7 linked regions of the Homo sapiens genome follow. The protein of the gene in region 5 interacts with the protein of the main gene of each other region in a pairwise test. Each region holds a gene or a part of one and is shown on either strand. Other genes may lie near its edges.

The links.
Region 1: the proteins of PBX3 (region 5) and PTPN9 interact in a two-hybrid assay, tested with the Homo sapiens proteins (one large-scale study listed by BioGRID).
Region 2: the proteins of PBX3 (region 5) and NUDT9 interact in a two-hybrid assay, tested with the Homo sapiens proteins (one large-scale study listed by BioGRID).
Region 3: the proteins of PBX3 (region 5) and TRIM44 interact in a two-hybrid assay, tested with the Homo sapiens proteins (one large-scale study listed by BioGRID).
Region 4: the proteins of PBX3 (region 5) and COQ8A interact in a two-hybrid assay, tested with the Homo sapiens proteins (one large-scale study listed by BioGRID).
Region 6: the proteins of PBX3 (region 5) and GAD2 interact in a two-hybrid assay, tested with the Homo sapiens proteins (one large-scale study listed by BioGRID).
Region 7: the proteins of PBX3 (region 5) and DESI2 interact in a two-hybrid assay, tested with the Homo sapiens proteins (one large-scale study listed by BioGRID).

Annotation. Positions count from the first base shown.
Region 1 is NC_000015.10:75,523,816-75,527,315, forward strand, and holds part of PTPN9 (tyrosine-protein phosphatase non-receptor type 9), read right to left. Parts: intron 3,447-3,500; coding exon 3,303-3,446; intron 484-3,302; coding exon 394-483; intron 1-393. UniProt on the Homo sapiens protein: Protein-tyrosine phosphatase that could participate in the transfer of hydrophobic ligands or in functions of the Golgi apparatus.
Region 2 is NC_000004.12:87,453,573-87,456,763, reverse strand, and holds part of NUDT9 (ADP-ribose pyrophosphatase, mitochondrial isoform a precursor), read right to left. Parts: intron 2,394-3,191; coding exon 2,309-2,393; intron 1-2,308.
Region 3 is NC_000011.10:35,721,775-35,725,274, reverse strand, and holds part of TRIM44 (tripartite motif-containing protein 44), read right to left. Parts: intron 1-3,500. UniProt on the Homo sapiens protein: May play a role in the process of differentiation and maturation of neuronal cells. May regulate the activity of TRIM17. Is a negative regulator of PAX6 expression.
Region 4 is NC_000001.11:226,946,794-226,950,293, reverse strand, and holds part of COQ8A (atypical kinase COQ8A, mitochondrial), read right to left. Parts: intron 812-3,500; exon of another isoform or gene 659-811; intron 1-658. UniProt on the Homo sapiens protein: Atypical kinase involved in the biosynthesis of coenzyme Q, also named ubiquinone, an essential lipid-soluble electron transporter for aerobic cellular respiration.
Region 5 is NC_000009.12:125,925,373-125,928,872, reverse strand, and holds part of PBX3 (pre-B-cell leukemia transcription factor 3), read right to left. Parts: intron 1-3,500. UniProt on the Homo sapiens protein: Transcriptional activator that binds the sequence 5'-ATCAATCAA-3'.
Region 6 is NC_000010.11:26,296,774-26,300,273, forward strand, and holds part of GAD2 (glutamate decarboxylase 2), read left to right. Parts: intron 1-3,500. UniProt on the Homo sapiens protein: Catalyzes the production of GABA.
Region 7 is NC_000001.11:244,705,126-244,707,329, forward strand, and holds part of DESI2 (deubiquitinase DESI2), read left to right. Parts: intron 1-430; coding exon 431-664; 3' UTR 665-2,204. UniProt on the Homo sapiens protein: Has deubiquitinating activity towards 'Lys-48'- and 'Lys-63'-linked polyubiquitin chains. Deubiquitinates 'Lys-48'-linked polyubiquitination of RPS7 leading to its stabilization.

The sequences.
Region 1 (3,500 bases), on a different chromosome or scaffold from region 5:
GTAACTCTAATTACTAGAAACTATTAGTAATTCAATTGTTACTAAAATAATTTTATACCAAACTGCATGGCTGTTTCACATCTGCTCCTAACTGTGGAGACTCTCTAGATTCAGGATAAGGTATATAGGAACAAAGTCCAAACAGGGGGGGATGGAGGAGGGATAGCATTAAGAGATATACCTAATGCTAAATGACGAGTTAATGGGTGCAGCACACCAACAAGGCACATGTATACATATGTAACAAACCTGCACGTTGTGCACATGTACCCTAAAACTTAAAGTATAATAATAATAAAATTAAAAAAAAAAAAAAAAAAACAAAGTCCAAACAGGACACCAGTTAAAAAAGGAAGTAATAAGGCCCTACAAGATAGGTCCCTAAACACTCACTAAGATGGTGAATTTTCCACTGAGGATCTCAGAACGAAGAGGTTCCTCATGAGGTTTCAGCTTTACAATGCCTTCCTTCCTTCGAGTTTCCTAAAAAGGAAGCACAGCAAAATGTATTAATATGAAAATACTGTATATCCAGGACAGCACCATGTAACCACCAAATCTCAGAGATAAGGTGGTTATCAATGAATGAATGAATTATAAATTTCATAACTAAATAAATTTTGTAACTAATTTCATAACCAATTCTACTTCATTTAGTTGAATTAGAATTCAATTAAATGGGCCGGGCGCAGTGGCCCACGCCTGTAATCCCACCACTTTGAGAGGCCAAGGCGGGCAGGTCACCTGAGGTCAGGAGTTCGAGAGCAGCCTGGCCAACATGGTGAAACCTTGTCTCGGCTAAAAATACAAAAATTAGCCTGGCATGGTGGTGCGCGCCCATAATCCCAGCTACTCAGGAGGCTGAGGCAGGAGAATCGCTTGAACCCAGAAGGTGGAGGTTGCAGTAAGCCAAGACAGCACCACTGCACTCCAGCCTGGGTGACAAAATGAGACTCTGTCTCAAAAAAAAAAAAAAAAAAAAAAAAGAATTCAGCTAAATGAATAATGAAGTCAACTAAATGAATTATGAATTTCTTTGTAACCTGCCTCCAAGCCAGTCAAGCATTTTCGGAATTCCTGTCCAAAGCTACTTTATCAGCCCCTCAGGTAGGGTATTTTTCTCTGACTCAGTAAGAACCCTAACCCTGAAGAGTAACCAGTATGTTACATTCAGGTGCAGGATCAAGGTTCTTAAACACGCAGCAGCACTGACATGGTACCAGGACACTAAAATATGGACCTCAAAAATGTCTGGATGCCTACGTTCTCACATATTTTCTAGGTTTAGGCCTCTCCTATGTTTAAATAGGAGCCTTCTCTCCACCTGATATTGTCTCCAACAGCAGCTACCATGACTTCATTTTCCTCACCCTGATGGCCAGATTCTTTTTTTTTTTTTAATTGAGACCAAGTCTCACACTGTTGCTGAGGCTGGAGTGCAGTGGCATGATCTTGGCTCACTGCAACCTCCACGTCCAAGAGATTCTCTTGCCTCAGCCTCCTGAGTAGCTGGGATTACAGGCACGTGCCACCATGCCTGGCTAATTTTTGTGTTTTTAGTAGAGACGGGGTTTTGCCATGTTGCCCAGGCTGGTCTCCAACTCCTGGGCTGAAGCGATCCACCCGCCTCGGCCTCCCAAAGTGCTGGGATTACAGGCATGAGCCACCGCGCCCAGCCTCTTCAGTTCTCCTCTTAAATGACAAGGTTGACCACCTACACTTCCTTTTTCCGGAGACATTCTCTACCTTTATATACCGATAACAAAAAAATATTATCTTGGTTTGTCTTATTTCATCAACCGCTTGTTTTAAACCTCTTAGGCTGGGCACGGTGGCTCATGCCTGTAATCCCAGTACTTTGGGAGGCCGAGGTGCGTGGATCACTTGAGCTCAGGAGTTCGAGACCAGCCTGGGCAACATAGCAAAACCCCGTCTCTACTAAAAATACAAAAAATTAGCCAGGTATGGTGGTGCATGCCTGTGGTCCCAGCTACTCGGGAGGCTAAGGTGAGGTGGGAGGATCACTTGAGCTCAGGAGGCAGAGATCTGCAGTGAGCTGAGATCATGCCACTTCACTTCAGTCTGGGAGACACAGCAAGACTCTGTCTCAAAAAAAAAAGTGCTTCCACAGAATCCAGTGCTGCCTTATCATAACATTTCTACAACTCTTTGTTTATTTTCTCTTTCTTTTTTTTTTTTTTAAACAGTCTCACTCTGTTGCCCAGACTGGAATGCAATGGTGTGATCTCGGCTCACTGCAACCTCCACCTCCTTGGTTCAAGTGATTGTCCCTCCTCAGCCTCCCGAGTAGCTGGGAATACAGGTGCCACTACACCCAGCTAATTTTTGTAGTTTTAGTAGAGATGCGGTTTTGCCATTTTGTTCAGGCTGGTCTCAAACTCCTGACCTCAAGTGATCCACCTGCCTTGGCCTCCCAAAGTGCTGAGATTACAGGCATGAGCCACCGCACCCAGCCCTAGTCTCTCTTTCTAAATAGTAATCTCTGCACCTGGAACACAGTAAGTATAAAATAAGTATCTGTTGAGTAAATGAATGAATATTGAATGAGCTGGTCCACAAGACAGATGTAACCAAACTTCAGTTAAGCTAATCCTAGTGCTTGTTATCCCAATTTTTTTTTTTAGGGAGATTTTGTATTTCTTTAGAAGGATTCTGACCCCAAAGTAACATGCTGTATAGTGTTTTATCAAAGACACTACTAACTGAGAAAGCAAACAAGCACAAAACCAAAGTCTATGCCCCCTCAAAAAACAAAAATCAAAACAAAGTAAAATCCTGATGCCGCTACATTTGCATAAAGATACTTTAAGATAATGGACCTAGCTAATACACAGTTGCTCTTCTTTTCCAGTGTTAAAACTTCCCTTCCTGAACTGCCCACTAAGCTCATCATTCATCTGAATGGCAAGTTTCTAAAAGCCTTAGACAACCTGAAAACCAAGATTTTCATGTGGCCAGAGGCCAATGAAAAGAGCTAGGATTAAAACTCTAGGAAGGGTGAACCCCTATCCTGCCACCAGGATGCTGTCAGGCTACTTCCTCCGTCTCAATCATTAGATGTGGCATCCTGGTCTACGATCAAAACTTAGGTACAAAAGTAGTGCCTTCCAGTAGCTGCCTTGCCCAGCTTCAGCTCTCACAAGGGCTCCTGGATATGGATCCATTTTTTATGAAAGTGAGGAGGAACACTTAGAGAACCAATGTGTGTGTCGAGCATGACAGGGACAACAGCAACACTTAACCCAACTGCCACAGGTCTGGTCTACCCCTGAGCCACATACTCTGTAGGAGTGGAACAATTCTATGGCACGGAGCACATCAAACTTCCTTGCCATGAGGAACTTGACAGCCACATTCCAAGACAGCGGGGAAACATTGTACTGAACTGTCCACTTGTTAATCTCTTCGAGAAACTGCTTGGTAGCCTGTTTGACAAAGAAAGAAAGAATAATTAGTAAGAAGAGAGCATATTTATGGAG
Region 2 (3,191 bases), on a different chromosome or scaffold from region 5:
AGAGACCACACTGCCATACCAAAAACTGGAGAGACAGGCAAATACAGAGAATCACAACTGACCAGGGAGAGAAGCCTACCGCTGGAGTCAGCACCTGGTAGGAACACTTAAAGGGTAACTAACTGCTGAAAGCTGACCTTTGGACTAGCTTGAAAGATAAAATCTCCTAGGGGGTCAGCCATACCAGTATGAAGAGGGGGCCTACATTTTAGTGAGCTTTACCTCCAAGAAAGCCACCAGGTGAAGACTGGAGAAAAATCCTCTCTCCTTTCTAACATGGAGAGGGGAAAGGTAACCAATTTCAAATACACCCAGATCACTCTGCCCTCAAGGAAAACTATTTTACCAAGCCCTAAGCAACCTGAGGGAAAGGAAATACCCAACTCCAGCCCCCGCTGGATTTCCTGTCTTTCCTAAGGATTGGGGAGGAAGGAGGGAAGCTGAGAATAACATATGAAGGGTCACAGCCCAGGGCCACAGGCTCACTAAAAGACTGACATCTAACCATATATTCTCCTATGATTCCCCTTCCTCTAGAATTTACCACCATATCTATCAATAGGACTCCTGTTTAATAAAAGGGGAAGACAGCTGAAAGAAGGGCATGCTTCAGACCTCATTTAATAAGTCTCCAGGGAAACCCAAAACTAGAGGAAATTTTAGCCTCTGACACATACAATGACAGCAAACAAAAAACACAGCCTAACTCCTAGCCAGATAAACATAAAACCTCACGCTAAAGAACTATTTGCCTTAGTTCCCTTACAAGTTATATCATGGTCAATTTTCAAAAAAGCACTACAGCCAGGCGCAGTGGCTCATGACTGTAATCCCAGCACTTTGGGAGGCCAAGGTGGGTGGATTACCTGAAGTAAGGAGTTTGAGACCAGCCTGGCCAACATGGTGAAACCCCATCTCTACTAAAAATACAAAAATTAGCCAGGCATGGTGGTGCATGCCTGTAGTACCAGCTACTTGAGAGTCTGAGGCAGGAGAATCGCCTGAACCCGAGAGGCAGAGGTTGCAGTGAGCCATTATCATGCCACTGCACTCCAGCGTGGGTGACAGAGCAAGACTCCATCTCGGGGTTAAAAAAAAAAAAAAAGAAAAAAGAAAAAAAAGCACTAAAAGCACGCTAAAAGGCAAAAAACATAGCCTAAAGAAACAAAGCAAATATTAAAACCGAACTCAAATATGGCAGAGATTTTGGAATTATCAAAACAAAATTTTTTAAGTTTAAAGAGAGAAAAAGATAGGGTAAAAACAGTGAACAATCCATAAACTCTATAATCAACTTCTGGAGGATCAGTCATTGTTTTTAACTCCAAAACTTTAAAGTAGTTAACAAATTTATCAGTACTAAAGTTGTACAGACCTGCTTCTAATTTACATCTGCATATTTCTTCTAAGTTTTCATACTAGGATAAACTCTTCTAATACACCTTAGTGGAAATACAGGAATAGAAAATGGTCCCAGGAGTTTCCTCCAAGTTCAACAAGCAAAAGCACAGGATATGGAAATGACAGATCTAGTTCTAGCCCATTTTGTAAGTGAAAAAACTGAGTCCAAGAGGACAAATGATTTGTACAAGGTTACACAGCTCAGAAAGAACTATGAGTGGAACATTCATTTCATTTCTCTAGCATGGTGCCCCCACTTTTATGCTACAAATAAAAACAAATCAAATTTAGCAATAAAATATGTTTCAAGGGAGCCATTCAATGTGTACATTAAGACCAAATTAATTTTTAAGACAGCAGATTTTTCCTTTCTCCTTCTGTAATAACAGGTTTGACCCTCCTCATAAAATTTTAAATTCCATACACCAGAAACAGCATTCATTTAAAATTTTTTCAGTACTTGGAATTTTTTGTTATTGCTTTGTGTATTAACAATCCAAGATTATTATAAAAATATTTGAAATAGTAAGATATAAATCCCATTTCCTTTATCATTGCCATACTTCCTACCCAAATCCCAGTTGCTTTTGTTTTGCAAAAAAAGGGAACTATACTCAATAAATAATCTGACATCTTTAAAGCATATCATTTTAGCCCATAATTTCATCCTTAATTTCAAATGTTACCAATGGATTAAAGAAAATTTAGTCACTGGTGATAAAAGTTTTGAAGATTTCTTCTATGTATTCCTTTAATACCAACAATTTTGCTTTCATATAACTACAGTCCTACAATCAACAGTTAATTGGTTTAAGATGCTAAATAGTCCAGATTTAATCATGCCTTAGTGGGCTAATGGCTTAAATTGATCCTTTAATCCCAGCCAGTTTAATAAATATAAAGTTACCTGTTTCGTCATGGTAGTTCACAGCTTCTGTCTCCATCCATGCATTATCAGTGTTTCGAGGATCATCAACATATCCCTTATATATCTATTTTCAAAAGAAGACAAATTTTTTAAAAGTCCAAGGTGTAGTGAGTACAGCAGAGCATGTTACCTTCACTAGCATCAGAAATGTAAATATCCTGTTGCCCAACAACATGAACATACTTAATGCTACTGAGCTGTACCTTCAACAGTTTAGATGGTAAATTTGACATTATGTGTTTCTATCAAAATTTTTTTAAAGAAATGTAAATAGCCGGGCGCGGTGGCTCACGCCTGTAATCGCAGCACTTTGGGAGGCTGAGGCGGGTGGATCACCTGAGGTCAGGAGTTCGAGACCAGCCTGACCAACAAGGTGAAACCCTGTCTCTACTAAAAATACAAAAAAAATTAGCCATGCATGGTGGTAGGTGCCTGTAGTCCCGGCTACTCGGGAGGCTAAGACAGGAGAAATTACTTGAACCCAGGAGGTGGAGGTAGCAGTGAGCCAAGATCGCGCCACTGCACTCCAGCCTGGGCAACACAGCGAGACTCTGTCTCAAAAAAAAAAAAAAAGAAAGAAAGAAAGAAAAAAAGAAAGAAATGTAAATATCATAAAACTTTTAATGTAGTACTTCATGTGCTTGTTTCAAATTTCCCAAAGAACAATATTCTCTTTTGAGGCAGCTTTAAAAATCATGAAACCCTCAGGCCAGGCGTGGTGGCTCATGCCTGTAATACCAGCACTTTGGGAGGCGGAGGTGGGCGGATCATGAGGTCAAGAGATCAAGACCATCCTGGCCAACATGGTGAAACCTCGTCTCTACTAAAAACACAAAAATTAGCTGGGCATGGTGGAGAACAC
Region 3 (3,500 bases), on a different chromosome or scaffold from region 5:
TTTTCTATATAGTTATGTACATATATGTATATAGATAATTAAGTAGTTTTTATATAAATGAATCATAGGGAAAATATGGTTGTCTTACTTTTCTACTTAAGATATATTTGTGCATACAGATCAACTTCATTCTACTATTTTTACTATCTGTATGATATGGAGATGGAGGGTGTGTGTGTGTGTGTGTGTGTGTGTGTGTGTGTGTGTGAGTGTGTGCATGTCTCCTAGTTAACCATTCCTCTCTTAATGGAAGTACAGGATATTTCCAAATTTTTGCTTTTATAAACAACACAGCAATAAACATCCTTGGCTATATCTCTTAATATACGCATATGAGTTTTTTAAAGATGTTTAGAGCCACTTAGTAAATTGGCATATACTCTAAAAATATTGGTTCATACTGCCAAGGTGCCTTCTGAGAAAGATGTATTGATTACATTCCTACAACAACATATGAAAGTAAGCATTTTCCTACACCCTTGCCAATACTGGATTATATCAAGCTTTTAAACTTTTACTATCATGGGTGCAAATATATTATTGTTTTATTTTATAACAACTGCAAACCAAAGAAAATACAACTGCTAGCTATATTTATGCTTAGGGCATAAGAAAGGCTAACAAAGTGAGAAATTATCAAAATGAGAACTTCTAAACTCCAAATTTTACCAGCAACTGTATTTATTGATGTTTCCTCACAACCATGTTTATTTTATGATTATTTTAAAACAACTATGCATATTATGAGTGTAGCTGAGATAGGGAGCAGGGAAGAAGTAAACCGTAGACAAAAGGAGAAAGGCAGAAGAAAAGCCAATGGAGGATTTTAGAACTGGAAGAGAAAACAGTTGTCATCTAAATGAACCCCTTCCTTTTACAGATAAGGAAATGGACACGGTTGCAAACCTGTAGAAGAGGGAAAGACTCCAATCTTCTTGTTCTCAGTCTGGTGCTCTGTTCACTATAAAAGTCTGCCAGAAGGGAAGTCAAACTGGGAAAACCTAAGAAAGGAAACTGTGAAAGACAAAGCCTACAGGAGGGGGTAGCAGATTAATTTTTAATTAGCCCCTTAGAAACCGAAAGAAGCTTGATACCTTACGCAGCTTTTGTAACACTACTAAGGACATCAGTGCAAAATAAGGCCTGTATGACATGTATCTGCTCACACATCAAGTGACTAAGTGTCATAAGCCCTCATATACTCTCTGCAGGTGCTCTCCTTGGTGCTGGAGAAAATGGGAAAGTGTATTAAATGTTATTAATGTCCCTGTAAATTCTGTATCAGATTGAGAACTGTGATTTGTGTTTATATAATTCCTTTTTATTTTTAGTGTATGTATTTTAGGGCTATTATGCTTTACAGTGATCATTGATCAATGGATCTCTACTCCTGAAATAAATTGAGTCTCAAATGACTAGGTCCTTCTCTCAGAGACCAAACCTTTTCACTAAGGGATGGACTTTTCTGAATGCCTGAGAAACTCTCTTAATGGCTACCAGTAACTAAAAATGGATATCATAATAAAAACTGACTCACAACCTATTTTACTAGACTTCACATACACATGTGGTTCAGTTAGGAAGCTGACATCTCACTTAGTAAAGGTGTGGGCCAGACTGCAGCAGGTGAATGAGTCATGGATTTTAAAATTCTCTATTTCCCATGGCTTTAATTACATAGGGTTTTCAGCATGACACTGTATTTTATACAGATCAGGTCACAAATGAAAACTGAAGGAAAAAATAATCCGCTTTACAAAACCTTTATGCCTTTTTCCCACTCTCATTCTCTAATTAACAAATAAGCATTTTCCAACCTAAGACATCAAAACCTTTGGCATGTTAGTTACAATCAAGCTGATATATCTTTGTTATAGTTGCATTAGGGTGAAGTGGAATATGATTAAACATAGCATTGTATTGAAATTATAACATAGCACTGCAATTTGAAAATTTTGACCACTGTATGGTCAGAACTACCTATTGAACATCTGAATCTAACCTTCTAATTTTATAGGTGAAGGGGAAAAAAAGTCACAGAGAAGTACGATAATAAAGTTAGGTTTAGAAACTTTCCTCTGGTCCAGTCTAATGTACTTTTACAACTCATCATTTCAAAAGAGTTATAAATGAGAATCTGTCGAAACAAGAAAAAGAAAGAGAAGGAGAGATAGAGAAAGAGAGAGAGAGACGAGGGAGGGAGAGAGTTGGAAGGGGGAGAGGGAGGGAGGGAGGTAGAGAGAGACAGAAGGAGGGAGGTAGAGAGAGAAAGAGAGAGAGATTGAAAAACAATTTGTTTCAGAAAAGTATTGCTGAGATGAACTGAGAATAATGGTCAGGGTTAGGAGCAGGAAGCTACTCAAAAGAGAAGCATCCAAATCTACACTGAATATTTCAGAAACATTTGTTTTGTCACAGGCGTCTGAACCAAAGCCACTCCATTTTGAATACAGGCTGGGTAAAATAAGACTGAGACCTACTGGGCTGCCTTCCCAGAAGGTTAGGCATTCTTAGGATGAGATAAGAGGTCGGCACAAGATACAGGTCATAAAGACCTTGCTGATAAAGCACGTTTGCAGTAAAGAAGCTGGCCAAATCCCACTAAAATAGGATGGCGATGAGAATGACCTCTGGTGGTCCTCACCATTACAGTCCCACCAGCACCATGACAGTTTACAAATACCATGGGAATGCCAGGAAGTTACTCTATATGGTCTAAAAAGGGGAGGCATGAATAATCCACCCCTTGCTTAGCATATGATCAAGAGATAACCATAAAAATAGGCAACCAGCAGCCCTTGGGGCTGCTCTGCCTATGGAGTAGCCATTTTTTCATTCCTCTACTTTCTTAATAAACTTGCTTTCATTTCACTATATGGACTCGCCCTGAATTCTTTCGTGAGCAAGATCCAAGAACCCTCTCTGGGGTCTGGGTCAGGACCCCTATTTGGTAACAGTCCTACAAGCCAAATTTCCTGCAAGGTGTTAAGGAGACTACTCCAAAAATAACTTTAAAAATTGTAGACTGCATGAAATAGAGTTTGAAGACTCTAAATATCTCCCCAAAAAGTCCATTTTCACTTCCCTCTTCCTCATTTGAAAGGCCATTGTTCTAAAACAGAAAAACAAAAAAGCAGGAAATGGAACTTTTTCAGATGCTACAAGCTGTCCACACTCCCACAGCACAGTGTCCTCCCCACTTGCCAGTGTCTATGGAAACTTCAAGTTGGGAAGTTCAAAGTTAAGGCATCTGTTTAGCCTTCAGCATTTATTCCTACATTGTACTCCAAGACAGCTCCTTCCAAACTTAGGCCAGACTCCAGTGAGGGCAGGCAAGGGAAAAACTTCATCAACAAGGAGGTCAAGGCTTTTTCAATGGATGGCAAGATCTCCTATTTCTTGTGTCTTTTGTGTATCAGTGGAATAGCCACTATTTGTGAATAAAACAACTGCCCACCCACCAGGCTTAGAAAATTATTCAGCAGCCTAGAAACACGGTA
Region 4 (3,500 bases), on a different chromosome or scaffold from region 5:
TTGGGAGCTGGGCAGGGTTGGGGGTGATATAAAAGCAGCAGAAGGCAAAGTTCCAGCCTCTGATGATAGTCCAGAGAAGGACCCAACACTGTGAGCGAACCTGCATGGGCTCAGAGCTCCAACCACAGGCAGGCAACAGAGGGTCCCAAGCAGCCTCTCCCACTCTGTGAGTTGATATAGCCGATGACACACAAGGCTTTTAAAGGCCAACCAGCCAAGCGCAAGGTCCTGATGGCAATTTAGTTTTCTGACTAAAAACCTAGTGAAGTTTACTGCTTAAAACATTTAAATTAAAATATTTGGCTCAGGAAGTGATACTGGTGACATGGTTAAGATGCTCTGAGGTTAGGTGATCTGGGTTCACATCATGACTCTGCCACTGACTTGCTAGTGTGACCTAAATCAAGTCATGTGAGCTTATCTTTGTGCCTCAGTTTCCTCATCTGTTCTTGAAAGGACTGGATAAATCCATGTAACAGCATTCAGGACATATAGTAGGTGCTTAAAAACCATTAGCTAATGCCATTATTATTAGTAGTAGTATTGCAAGCACACAGACATTCTGGAATGAAGTTCAGACTTGGTGAGACCAACGGTTAGGGTGAATGGGATCAGTCTGGATAACCCGCAGTTGTTCCTGCCAGGCACAGTCTCATACCTGAGTTGGGAGGAAGGCTGGGCTGGGGAGGACCAGTGTGGTTTATTTAGTGCTGTGGTATGAGGCATCATTCAGGAGAGGCAGTCCAAAGTGCTGGCAGCCTGCTTCGAAACCAGGGACACAAATGTCCACTGGTATTCCTTACCACTTCACCTTAAAGGAGAAAACAGCATGGGAGGCTTTTGTCCAGGTACATTCAGGGAGAGGCAGTTGGGAAGAAAACCCCTCTAACTCCCACAAGCTCCCCAGCTCCGAGCCATGGAACACTCTCCTGCCAGATTCCTCTCCCTATAAAAAAACCCACGTTCATCATGCCAACGCGTTGCTCAAATGGCTCCTCTACCTGTAGACATGTATGTAGACATATATATAAAACCCAAACTCCTGCGCCTGAAGTCCCAGGCATCGAAATCAGGCCCCCGGCCTCCTTTCCAGCCTCCAGCTACGCGCGAGCCATGTGAGCGCACTCCACTCTGCAGGTCCTACTTTCTCAGGCAGGCCCGCTCGCCCCTTCATCTCTGTACGTCTGAAAACCCACCCATTAGCCAAGGGTGAGGGCCTTGGGGCCTTGGGGCTGGGAATCAGCTCTGCCCTGACCAGCTGGGCTGCTCCAGGCATATTCTCGAACCATCTCTGACCTGTTTCCTCTCCTCGAAATGATGGTATAAGTTATTATATTGTCCAATATAAATGGAGGGGTGGGTGGATATACTTTGAAATGTGTTAAAGCACCATATAAATTCAAGAACGTATTCCTATTCAGGCCCTTGATTCCCAGCTCTTCCATATTTACGTTCTCCTGACAGCTGATCTAACTTGCTGGTCAGATTCCTACATTGTAAGTTACTCTTCTTCTTGCACATGGACCTCTCTTCTCTTCAAACTATAAGCTCCTTGTGGGAGGCTCTTGTCTCAGACAACTCTGACTCTTCCCACTCCACCCACACACACAGAGTGATCCACCCACACAAATTACAAGCGCAAGCGTTGACTGAATTCACGAACCACTGCCACCCAGGAAGGTAATTAAGGATCCTAAAGTTGAGGTTGAAGGGTTTCTTTCAACGTTTCTTTCAGACGCTTACAGGGTTGTCTTTAAATCTGGCCAAAATACTGTGGGTGGCTGTGGTAGGCTGAATAATGGTGTCTCAAAGATACCCATACCACAATCCCCAGAACCTGTGAATGTTACCTGCAAATGGGACTTTGCAGATATGATGAAGTCAGGGATCCTGAGATGGGGGATTATCCAGGTGGGCCCAATGTAATCACAAGGGCCCATATAAGAGGGAGGCAGGCAGGGCAGAGTCAGAACGAGGTGATGGGAGACAGAAGTGAGGCTGGAGTGATGCCATTGTGAGGAAGAGGCCACAAGCCAAGGAATGCAGGCAGCCTCTAGGCTGGAAAAGGCAAGGGGTCGGGTCCTGCCCTTGAGCCTCCAGAAATGAACCAGCCCAGCTGATACCTTGATTCTAGCCTAGTGAGACCAATTTCAGACTTCTAACCTCCAGAACTGTAAGATCATACATTTATGATGCTTTGAGCCACAAACTTTGTGGTAATTTATCACAACAGCCATAGGAAATTAAAGCAGATCCTTGGGTTGGGGAGAGGGGCTGTATTCTAGAATAATTTCCAGACCATTCTTCTAAATTAACTTTGGTCACTCCACAAATACTACTGAATGCCAACCAAGTGCGAGGCACCAAGCTGGGTGGTAGACTACCCCACAGACAGCTCAGTGCATTCCTGTTCTTAATGACGGAGTCCTGTTGACTTTCTCTATATTGGGCCCATACTACATGCCAGGCAGATAGATATATATATATATATATTTTTTTGAGACAGGGTCTTACTGTTGCCTAGGTTGGAATTCAGTGGCATGATCACAGCTCACTGCAGCCTCAACCTCCCCAGGCACAGGTGATTATCCTGAGTAGCTAGGACTACAGGTGGGTACCACCACACCTGGCTAATTTGTTTGTATTTTTAGTAGAGACAGGGTTTCACCATGTTGCTCAGGCTGGTCTCGAACCCCCGACCTCAAGTGATCTGCCCACCTCGGCCTCCCAAAGTGCTGGGATTATAGGTGTGAGTCACCGTGCCTGGCCTCGGTTTTATATTCTTAATCTTTCAAAACACTTTTACTTCAGGTTTAATATCTCAATGAAATAGGAATAATAACAAGAACAGCTACCATTTATTATTCCCCTCTGTCTGCCTGTCACTTTATATTACCTCTAGTTCTTACAAAGACCTGGTGAGGTATTATCCCCACTCATTGATAGGATAATTAAAGCTCATCAAGGCTGAGCAATCTCCTAAGGGCCAAAGCTGTGGGATGCTGGACCCTTCCACACCTGTCTGACTCAGGCTCCAGTCCTTTCTTCTTACTGCCTAGGAAGCTGAGAGATAGCAGAGAAGAACACTGCCCCAAATCAATAACTCCTTTTTTGTTAAATCAATAGTCACTCAATATGAGACATCAGCAAGGTTTACATCCTGAAATGTGTCTTCCTGGTTACAGAAAATTGAGTCATAAAAATTCTGGGGCCAGCTGGGCTCTCAAAGGCCATCTGGCCAAACTCCCTGCTCTGGAAAGTTTGTCAGCTGCCAGGACTGAGGGTATCACAATTCTCAGCACCAGTGATCCTACCCACTAGAGGCAAAGCTTGGTTCCAGAGCCAGTTTGATCTTAAACATAAATAGTGGAAAGAGGCAGACGCCCTACACTGAAGACTGCCTCTGGGTGTGCAAGAGCTAGGAGGAGCCATCGGGCACACGGCCCTCAGTCTTGCCACACTCAACACCAGCACCAACCTTTATTAGCATCACCTCCAAA
Region 5 (3,500 bases):
TTTAGTGGATATAAGCCATCTCTGTAAAGCAGCTCAACTCTTCAAGGGATGTCCAACAGAAAATAAGGATCAGATCTGGGTCTCAAACTTTTTAGTTAACAATCCTCAGGCCGGGCGCGGTGGCTCACGCCTGTAATCCCAGCACATTGGGAGGCTGAGGCGGGTGGATCACGAGGGCAGGAGATCGAGACCATCCTGGCTAACACAGTGAAACCCCATCTCTACTAAAAATACAAAAAATTAGCCCACCGTGGTGGCGGGTGCCTGTAGTCCCAGCTACTCGGGAGGCTGAGGCAGGAGAATGGCGTGAACCCAGGCGATGGAGCTTGCAGTGAGCCGAGATCGCGCCACTGCACTCCAGCCTGGGCAACAAAGCGAGATTCCAAGATTCTGTCTCAAAAAAAAAAAAAAAATCCTCAGACATTGTCTCTTTCAGTACATACACAAAAACACACACACACACACACACACACACACACATTTGTTTCCCCTAATATTCAGAGTCTCACTGTGTCACCCAGGCTAGAGTGCAGTGGTATGATCATAGTTCATTGCAGCCTCAAGCCCCTGGGCTCAAGCAATCCTCCCATCTCAGCTTCCCAAGTAGCTGTGACGACAGGCATGTGCCACCATACCCAGCTAATTTTTTATGTATTTTTTATTATTATTATTTTTTTTTGTAGAGACAGAGTCTTGCTCTGTCGCCCAGGATGGAGTGTTGGAGTGCAGTGGTGTGATCTCGGCTCACTGCAGCCTCCGCCTCCTGAGTTTAAGCAATTCTCCTGCCTCAGCCTCCCGAGTAGCTGGGACTACAGGTACACACCGCCACGCCCGGCTAATTTCTTTTGTATTTTAGTAGAGATGGGGTTTCACCATGTTGCCCAGGCTGATCTCAAACTCCTGAGTTCAGACAATCCACCTGCCTCAGCCTCCCGAAGTGCTAGGATTACAGGCATGAGCCACTGCGCCTGGCCCCCAGCTAATTTTTAAATCTTTTTTAGAGTCAGGGTCTTGCTATGTTGCCCAGACTTGTCTCAAACTCTTGGCCTAAAGAGATCCTCCCACCTCAGCCTCCTGAGCTGCTAGGATTACAGGTGTGTGCCACTGCATCCAACTTCATCTATATTCTCTTTGATTTATAAATCTGTATAACTGGGCCTACACTGAAATCCAGTACTGCCTGGTAAATAAAGCATCAGTTTATACTCCTGAAGAAAAAGAGTCTCTTCTGGCATTTTTCTTAAAAATGCAGGATGGGAAATTCTGCATCTTACTGCACGGGTGTCCCTGATGGAGTGAGAAGACAGAAAAATCACTGATCAATGCAAGACATGTTTGGAAGTTATAATAATGTCCACTTCCCTAGAGATATCCCAAACATTGCTCACATATAGCACATGATGGTTTTTCTAACTGCTCATTAGAGGACTAACCTTTCCTGAACCCTGTGTATTTCACTTACTCTAAAATTTTATAGAGCTTTCCATAAATATTTCTAAGGTAAGGTAAAATGAGTCTTATCATGTAAAGTTTTTTCAAAAATATGTTTTAAGCCATAGGAAATATTAAATTCCTTGTGAGTGGTGACACTATATTATACTTACGGGATTCTTCAGTGTAGAATTATGCAATATACATACCTAATAAACATCTACAGATTGGTGGGCTTTTTAATACTACAATTCAAGAGTGAGAGTTATGTTGGTTAATAGCCATAAATTCATTATCCCTGAATCATAAGAGAAGAATTCTTAATCTGCAGTCAATGGATAGGTTTAGAAGGTCAATGACCTCCTGAAATCCTACACAAGTTGTGTGCATATTAATAATTCTGATGAGAGAATCTGTGAAGCTTTTGTTTTCTTTTCAGAATCTCAGTCTATAATTTTAAAAGGTTAATAATCATTGTCCCAGGATATGACACAGTAAAACATTAAGCAATGTTGTAGACTAAAACCAGAAGTTGAAGGCAGAAACCAAGATTTAAAAAAATAAATTTAAGATCTTCCCCACTATATTATCAATTTATTTTATCTTATTACTATTTTTTTTGAGACGGAGTTTAGCTCTTGTTACCCAGGCTGTGGTGCAATGGCACGATCTTGGCTCACTGCAATCTCCGCCTCCCAAGTTCAAGCGATTCTCCTGCCTCAGCCTCCCAAGTAGCTGGGATTACAGGCGTGTGCCACCATGCCCGGGTAATTTTTTTTGTATTTTTAGTAGAGATGGGGTTTCACCATGTTGGTCAGGCTGGTCTCGAACTCCTGACCTCAAGTGATCTACCTGCCTCAGCCTCCCAAAGTGCTGGGATTATAGGCATGAGCCTGTAATAAATAGCACCTGGCCTATTATTTTGAGACAGTTTCATTCTGCTGCCCAGTCTGGAGTGCAGTGGCATGATCTTGGTTCACTGCAACCTCCGCCTTCTGAGTTTGAGTGATTCCCGTGCCTCAGCCTTCCAAGTAGCTGGGATTACAGGCATATGCCACTGCGCCCAGCTAATTTTTGTATTTTTAGTAGAGACAAGGTTTTACCATGTTGGCCAGGCTGGTCTCGAACTCCTGACCTCAAGTGATCCGCCCACCTTGGCCTCCCAAAGTGCTGGGATTACAGGCGTGAGCCACCATACCTGGCCTATATTATCAATTTAAATGATTTTATGCCAAATTAAAAACAAGTGGTCACCCTACCAATAAATATACGTATATATCTTTTTCTTGAACTTTCCCTAAGGAGATGTTTATATAATTTCCAAGTTATGTAATGTGACCAACTCTACCCTTCAGTTTTCTCATCAGTAAAACAAAGATAATTGAAGTAGAACTATTCCAAAACTGGGATTAACAAATTCTATAGTTCTACAGCTAGTTCCATAGAATGTTAACTAATAGTCCAACAATATGATATGTTTGGGAATTGCTGGGTTAACCAAAATCTTAAAAACTTTTTGTGGGTAAGACTCTTCAGTATTCCTATCCTAATATTTGTAATAAATCTTCAAGGAGAAATAGCATATCCAACTTTTTCCCAAATAAATTTGGCCACAAAATTTCTCTCTAGAGTAATCCTGTCCAATAGAAATACATTGTGAGCCACATATTAAATTTTTAAATTCTCAGTAGCCATATTAAAAAATAAAATACAAAGAATTAGGTGAAATTAATCAACAATATATTTCACTTAACCCAATATATAAAAAATATCCTGGCCTGGGCAACATGGTGAAACTCCGTCTCTACCAAAAATATAAAAAATTAGCTGGACATGGTGGCACGCCTGTGGTCCCAGCTACTTGGGAGGCTGAGGTAGGAGGATCACTTGAGCCCAGGAGGCAGAGGCTGCAGTGAGCTGAGATTGTGCCACTGCATCCAGCCTGGGTGACAGAGTGAGAGAAAGAAAAGAAAGAAAATTAAGAAAGAAAGAAACAAAGAAAGACAAAAAAACTGTTAATGAGGTATTTCATTCCTTTTTTGTACTCTTTGAAATCTAGTGTGTATTTT
Region 6 (3,500 bases), on a different chromosome or scaffold from region 5:
TTGGAGGACTTTTCAAAGGTTAGCAGTGGATTTAATACTAAATTTGTAAGGAAGTAGCCTGGACTTATATTTAATACAGACTCTTTGAAAGTCTGTGTTATTAAGTGCAATAGAGGATTTAATTGGTGAAATTTTCGCATATTAGAATTTTTTTTTTTTAAGACAGGGTCTCACTCTGTTGCCCAGGCTGGAGTACAGTGGTGCCATCTCGGCTCACTGCAACCTCCACCTCTCAGGTTCAAGTGATTCTCCCACCTCAGCCTGCCGAGTAGCTGGGATTACAGGCACACACCACCACACCCAGCTAATTTTTATATTTTTTGGTCAGGACAGGGTTGGGACGGGGTTTCACCATGTTGGCCAGGCTGGTCTCGAACGCCTGACCTTAAGTGATCGGCTCACCTCGGCCTCCCAAAGTGCTGGGATTACAGGCATGAGCCACCAAGCCTAGCCAACAGTTTAGAATTTCTCATTTAATTATTCTGCTTTTACATTTTTCAGAAATTTCTCGCAGTCTTCCAAAATGTAAAAACAAAGAGGTTTTCTAAGACATAGTGAAAAATACATTTCTGTGATATCTTTTAAGTTTATTTCATAATGCTTTACTATGCACCCTCTTTGAAAGGGACAAATGTGGATTCCAATTATGGAAAAGTCGCCTGGTTATTGCTTTCTAAAGGACTGAAAAAGCTAATGGCACAAGAGAGAAGACAATACCCTAAAATTATTAAGGCAGGCCCAAAGAGCTCTTGTTGACTATACCTTTAGCGAATTCTTCAACATGCAACCACTCTTTCTCAACTTGCGTTCTTTATTTAGGAAAACTAGGAATCCAACCAAAAAGTACAAAAGCCTAGAAATAAGTGAAATCTCTATGTATTTCATCCAAAAGACCACTGGGATGGCTAGATAGTAGAAAGGAGAGCTTTATTGATGATATCAGTTTGCAAACTGGGAAGAGACAGCCTCCAGCATGTGTGGAAGGTGCCCTCTCTTCCAAGAGAGGAAGGGCAGGTTGGGTTTTATGCCTCACAGGGCCTGTATCACACAGTAGAGTCATACATATTCAGTAGGTTTTGGGGGAAAGCTATCCATATTTATGAGGGGAGCTGAGCACATGCAGAATGAGTAAACATATATGTAACATACATCCCATGTTTACTTCGGGGCAGGGTTTTAGTGTTAGAATGAGGTGAAATTTGGCTCTTCATGTCAAAAGGTGAACTGTAGGACATAAACACAGTTTGTGCACCGCATCTATAAGCTGCTAAAACTGGCTTAAGGTCTGCAATTGCTTACCAGGAAAGAATGTGTGTAAGGTCAGTCTTCTGTCTAGTCAGAGTTATAGTGGTCTGGTTAGTAAATCAGGGTAAGGAGGGGGTCTCATAGCGCCTATTGTTAGGGAATTTCAATCATTAGGAATTTAGTAATTTGCCCTCCAGCCAGGCCTTGAACCCTGGACCCATCTTAGTTGATATAGGAGTGTCTATTTTGGCCCCACAGATCACATATATTCATCAGAATAGTCCGAATCTTATTTTCCTTCTTAACTTGCAATGAGTGAATATACAACGAAGTAGATGTTCATGTTCCGGCTAATTTTAGTTCATCAGCATTTTCTGGAAGCAACCAAAAGTCATATGTATTTAGACAGCTGTGATTTCTGCCAATTCAGCTTGCTTCGGGAACTGAGGGGATTCAATCTTACTTTATGCCCAAATCTGTTTGCTTGTGGCTGTTAGCATTAATCTTTTAACCTTTGATTTGCATTCATCTGAAAAGCTAGAGATGATTGTCCTTAATAATTAGTGCCATTCTTCTGTATTTTTGCTTGGATTACCCATGAAAACTAAATGAGACTTTAATTTACTGAGTAAAGCTCTGTCATTATTTTATCAGTTCTAAAGGGCAAGCGTGATTTATTATACAAATAAAACTAAGGAATGGTTATGTGACTTGTCCTTAAATTCCTGCAGCCAAGTGGATTTGGAATTCCTTTTCTAATCTGAGATTTATCTTCGCAGGAACCACATTGACTTGACACGCCTCACAACACAAAGGATAAATTCCATGCCCCTTTGGCTGGAATATGCTAGTAGATCTATTTTCAGAAGTTAATCTCAGATTTGAGATATTTTAATTCTTCTTCTTATTTATTCCCTGGGATGAGTCCAGTGCTCTGCATACATTCTTAATGCTTTAGGTGAAAGAAGGATCAGGCCAAGAGAAACATTCCTCCCCATGGAACAAGGGGTGGGAAGGGATATAAGAACTCAATGTAGAGTCAGAAGATCTCAATGCTGGAATCATCCACGTTCATTTTTAGAGAAGGAAATTAGGTTCAGAATGAGAAGTGAAGGTGAAGTCTACCTGTTGACCTTGTCTTTGGTAACTAACAAATGATTGGACCCAATGGGAACATTGCTATTTTATGCATTGGATACTTTGAAGATGAAAACTTCATTATAAACCAATGATTATTTAAGAGTTGATATTTATAAGTCACATGTTCATAACAGCATTCCATTTGAATTGAACTGTCTATTTAAGATAAATCCAGCTGTGATAGAAGGCATGGTCTCCATTTTGAACCGGGTTTCTGACCATATGAAACTCAAAGAAGTCTAAAAGTTTCTCTGATGTCTATCTACCATTTGCAGAAATGAAGATCAGATATTATATATTTACAAACTCCAGTGGTAAATATATGTGGATAGACTGTATGTACAGTTAGACATGATTTAAGTTTTTGCTTCTTCCTAGATAGCTGTTTCTATTATGCTACTCTTTATAGCAATAAGAACTTAGGAATCCCCCAACATGAACCAAGCACTGTGCTGGTAAAGAACAACAACAAAAACAGTAGAAGACACTGTGTCTGCCCTCCAGGACCTGACAGTTGAGGTAGAGAAAGAAAATGTATTTGCTTGAAAGTAAGAGGATAGTAGGAAATTAGCATATAGTCAGAATCTATGGGGAAGGATCATGGATGATATGTTTACAGCTTAAAGGAAGAGAGCTACTGATGGACACTAGAAGTCAGGAAAGGCTTCATAGCAGTTGTAGGACTGTGGTGGAATCTTGAAGTGTGTGTAGGATATGAACCAGAAGAGAAAAGGGATGGATTCTAAGCACAGAGAACAAGTATGACATAGTAACACTGATGACAAGTGTGAAGGGATAAAAATACATATGGTAAATTCAAGAGATATTTAATAAAGGAGTCTTGTCAGAGTTGAAGATTCATTTTGGCAAGTGGTGGAAGATGAGGCCTCATAAATGGATGATGAAAGGTCTTTGCACTGAACTAGAGTTTAAACTTAATTTCATATACAATAGAGAGCTACTGAGGCTATAATCAAAAATCTGGCATAAATAGAGTATAATCTCGTCTGTGGTATGCTATCCTGTCTGTGATATGAAACATATGTTAAGTCCTTGTGAGTTCAGCTTTTTGTCCCAGCTAATTATCATCATTATTAAGGATTATCTTTCAAAAT
Region 7 (2,204 bases), on a different chromosome or scaffold from region 5:
GAAAAAGAAGAATTCACAAATAGGAAAATATCCAAGATTGACTCTTCCAATTGCCTGGGGCTTCTATTACTCTAATAATATATTGTATTAACAAGCGTCTTCTGTGTGTTCAAAGTACTTTTCAGTGTGTCTCACAGCAGTTGCAGAGATCAAAGAAAGGAGCCAAGTGAAATTAGCTTGATTTCACAGATATGAAAAGTAAGCAACTTGACAAGGTTCTTTAGAAAGGAAGGAATGGAGCCAACAGTAGGGAGCCCAGGTCCTGAGTAAAGAGCTGCTTGTTATCAAAAGCCTGGAGTGACACCACTGAAGGCTAGTCTGCCGTGGCTTCTCTGTACGCCGCCCCCCTCCTCCCACCCTCCACTCCCTGGCAGTGGACCAGGTAATCTTAACCTCTCTTACCTAATACAGAACTCTTTCTCTTCTGTAGATTCTTTGTGGGAAAGAGATTCCTCGCTGGATCAATCGACTTGCCTACTTCAGCTCCTGTATACCCTTTCTACAGAGTTGCCTCCCGAAGGAGTGGCTCACGCCCGCAGCCCTGCAGTCTAGTGTCAGCCAAGAACTCCAGGATGAACTGGAGGAAGCAGAGGATGCTGCCGCATCCGCTTCCGTGGCAAGCACTGCAGCAGGCTCCAGACCCGGGCGCCACACTAAACTATAAATGTCTCCAAAGTCACACATTCAGAACTGTCTCTGGCAGTCGAATATCACTAGAGAAAAGTAAACAGAGAAGCATCCTTTAGATATTTTGTATGCAAAGATGGCTCTCCCCCAAATCCCAGTTTTTCAGCTCAGGATTATATTTGTAATCAAAAAAAAAAAATCACTTGGCGCAGGAGGGAGAACTTTGTAAGAAGCTGCCCTCTGTTTTTTTTATCCACTCGTAAATCTGGATTTATTTCTTCTGTTTTATACAAGCTCTGTTAAGTTATGTTTACAGTATCTTGTATCGCTGTTTACAAATCTTGCATGGACTCCTGCCACAGTGAAAGAAGAAAATCTTCATGTCTTCAAAAATTAGGCAGGTAATCTTTGTATACTTCTGACAATTGCCAGATCTATGGCATAAATAGGCACACAAAAAGGTACTTAAACAGTTATAGTCACCATCACCTGCTTCAGAATGGTCTTTTAGATTTGTGTTTGTTTTGTTAAAGTTGTTGGCACCAGGATGCAGAGAATCAGACTGGCCTGAGGTGAAGGAGCACACAGCCCTGAGGGCTTGGAACCCTGGGTCCAGTTCCTCTTCACACCCCCTTCCACTCTGAGTAGCACATCTCCCCAGGTGCCCATGGAACACCTGCTTTCATCCCAAATATCCGTCCACCTAGGCGGGGTGGTATGTTCTTACGTCTCTCTGACTTTGATGCCACTCATTCTATAGTTTAGCTGGTTTTCGTTCAAGATATTCTTGGTAGTAACTGACAAGTATGTTGCACATGTATTGGGGGAGGCGCTTCATTTTTATTTTAATACACATGTATTTCCTCCTTGCACAGGATTTTGATGGTGTGGGAATATCCTAAGTGGTAGCCTTCCAAGTAGCAGTGAGTTGACATTCAGCTGCTTTTAACTATTCAGGCTACCTTTTATACTAAACCTTGAAAACTAGAATCTAATGTCTACCCCAAAAAAGTAGTTCTTTGATATTTTATACTTTTTATGTACCATGTCAGAAAGAGTATGTTGGCGTTTGTCATGGGACTCATTTCACATAATAGAATGCCTAGTCTCATTGACCAATCGTTAAAAAATCATATTTGTGTGTCTTAAGATTCATATTTATATGTTCTCTCAAATGTATGTCTCTTACGTAACATACTCTAAGAATGAAACTGTCACCACAGGTAAATCCTTGTTAGCAAGGAATCTGTCTGCTCCAGTCTACTCCTAGTTTGATCCTTGGATGTAAGAACCAAGTCATTACATGTCAAATTCAATTTTTCTGCCTTAAGAATGAATGTCCTTCATAAAATATTGGATGCAGTGTAACACTATCCAAGGCAGTGACTTCAGCTTTATATACATATAAAATATAGTTAGTTTTAAAATTATTGACATTTATTTAAACTTTTAGATTGGATTGTTTGCTATTGCTCTGTGTGAGGATACATAATCTTTCAGTAAACTGTATTTTTAACTTTTCCATAAGCTGATTTTGGTTCATTTTATCAACGTAAGCACACCCTGTTCATAGGGAA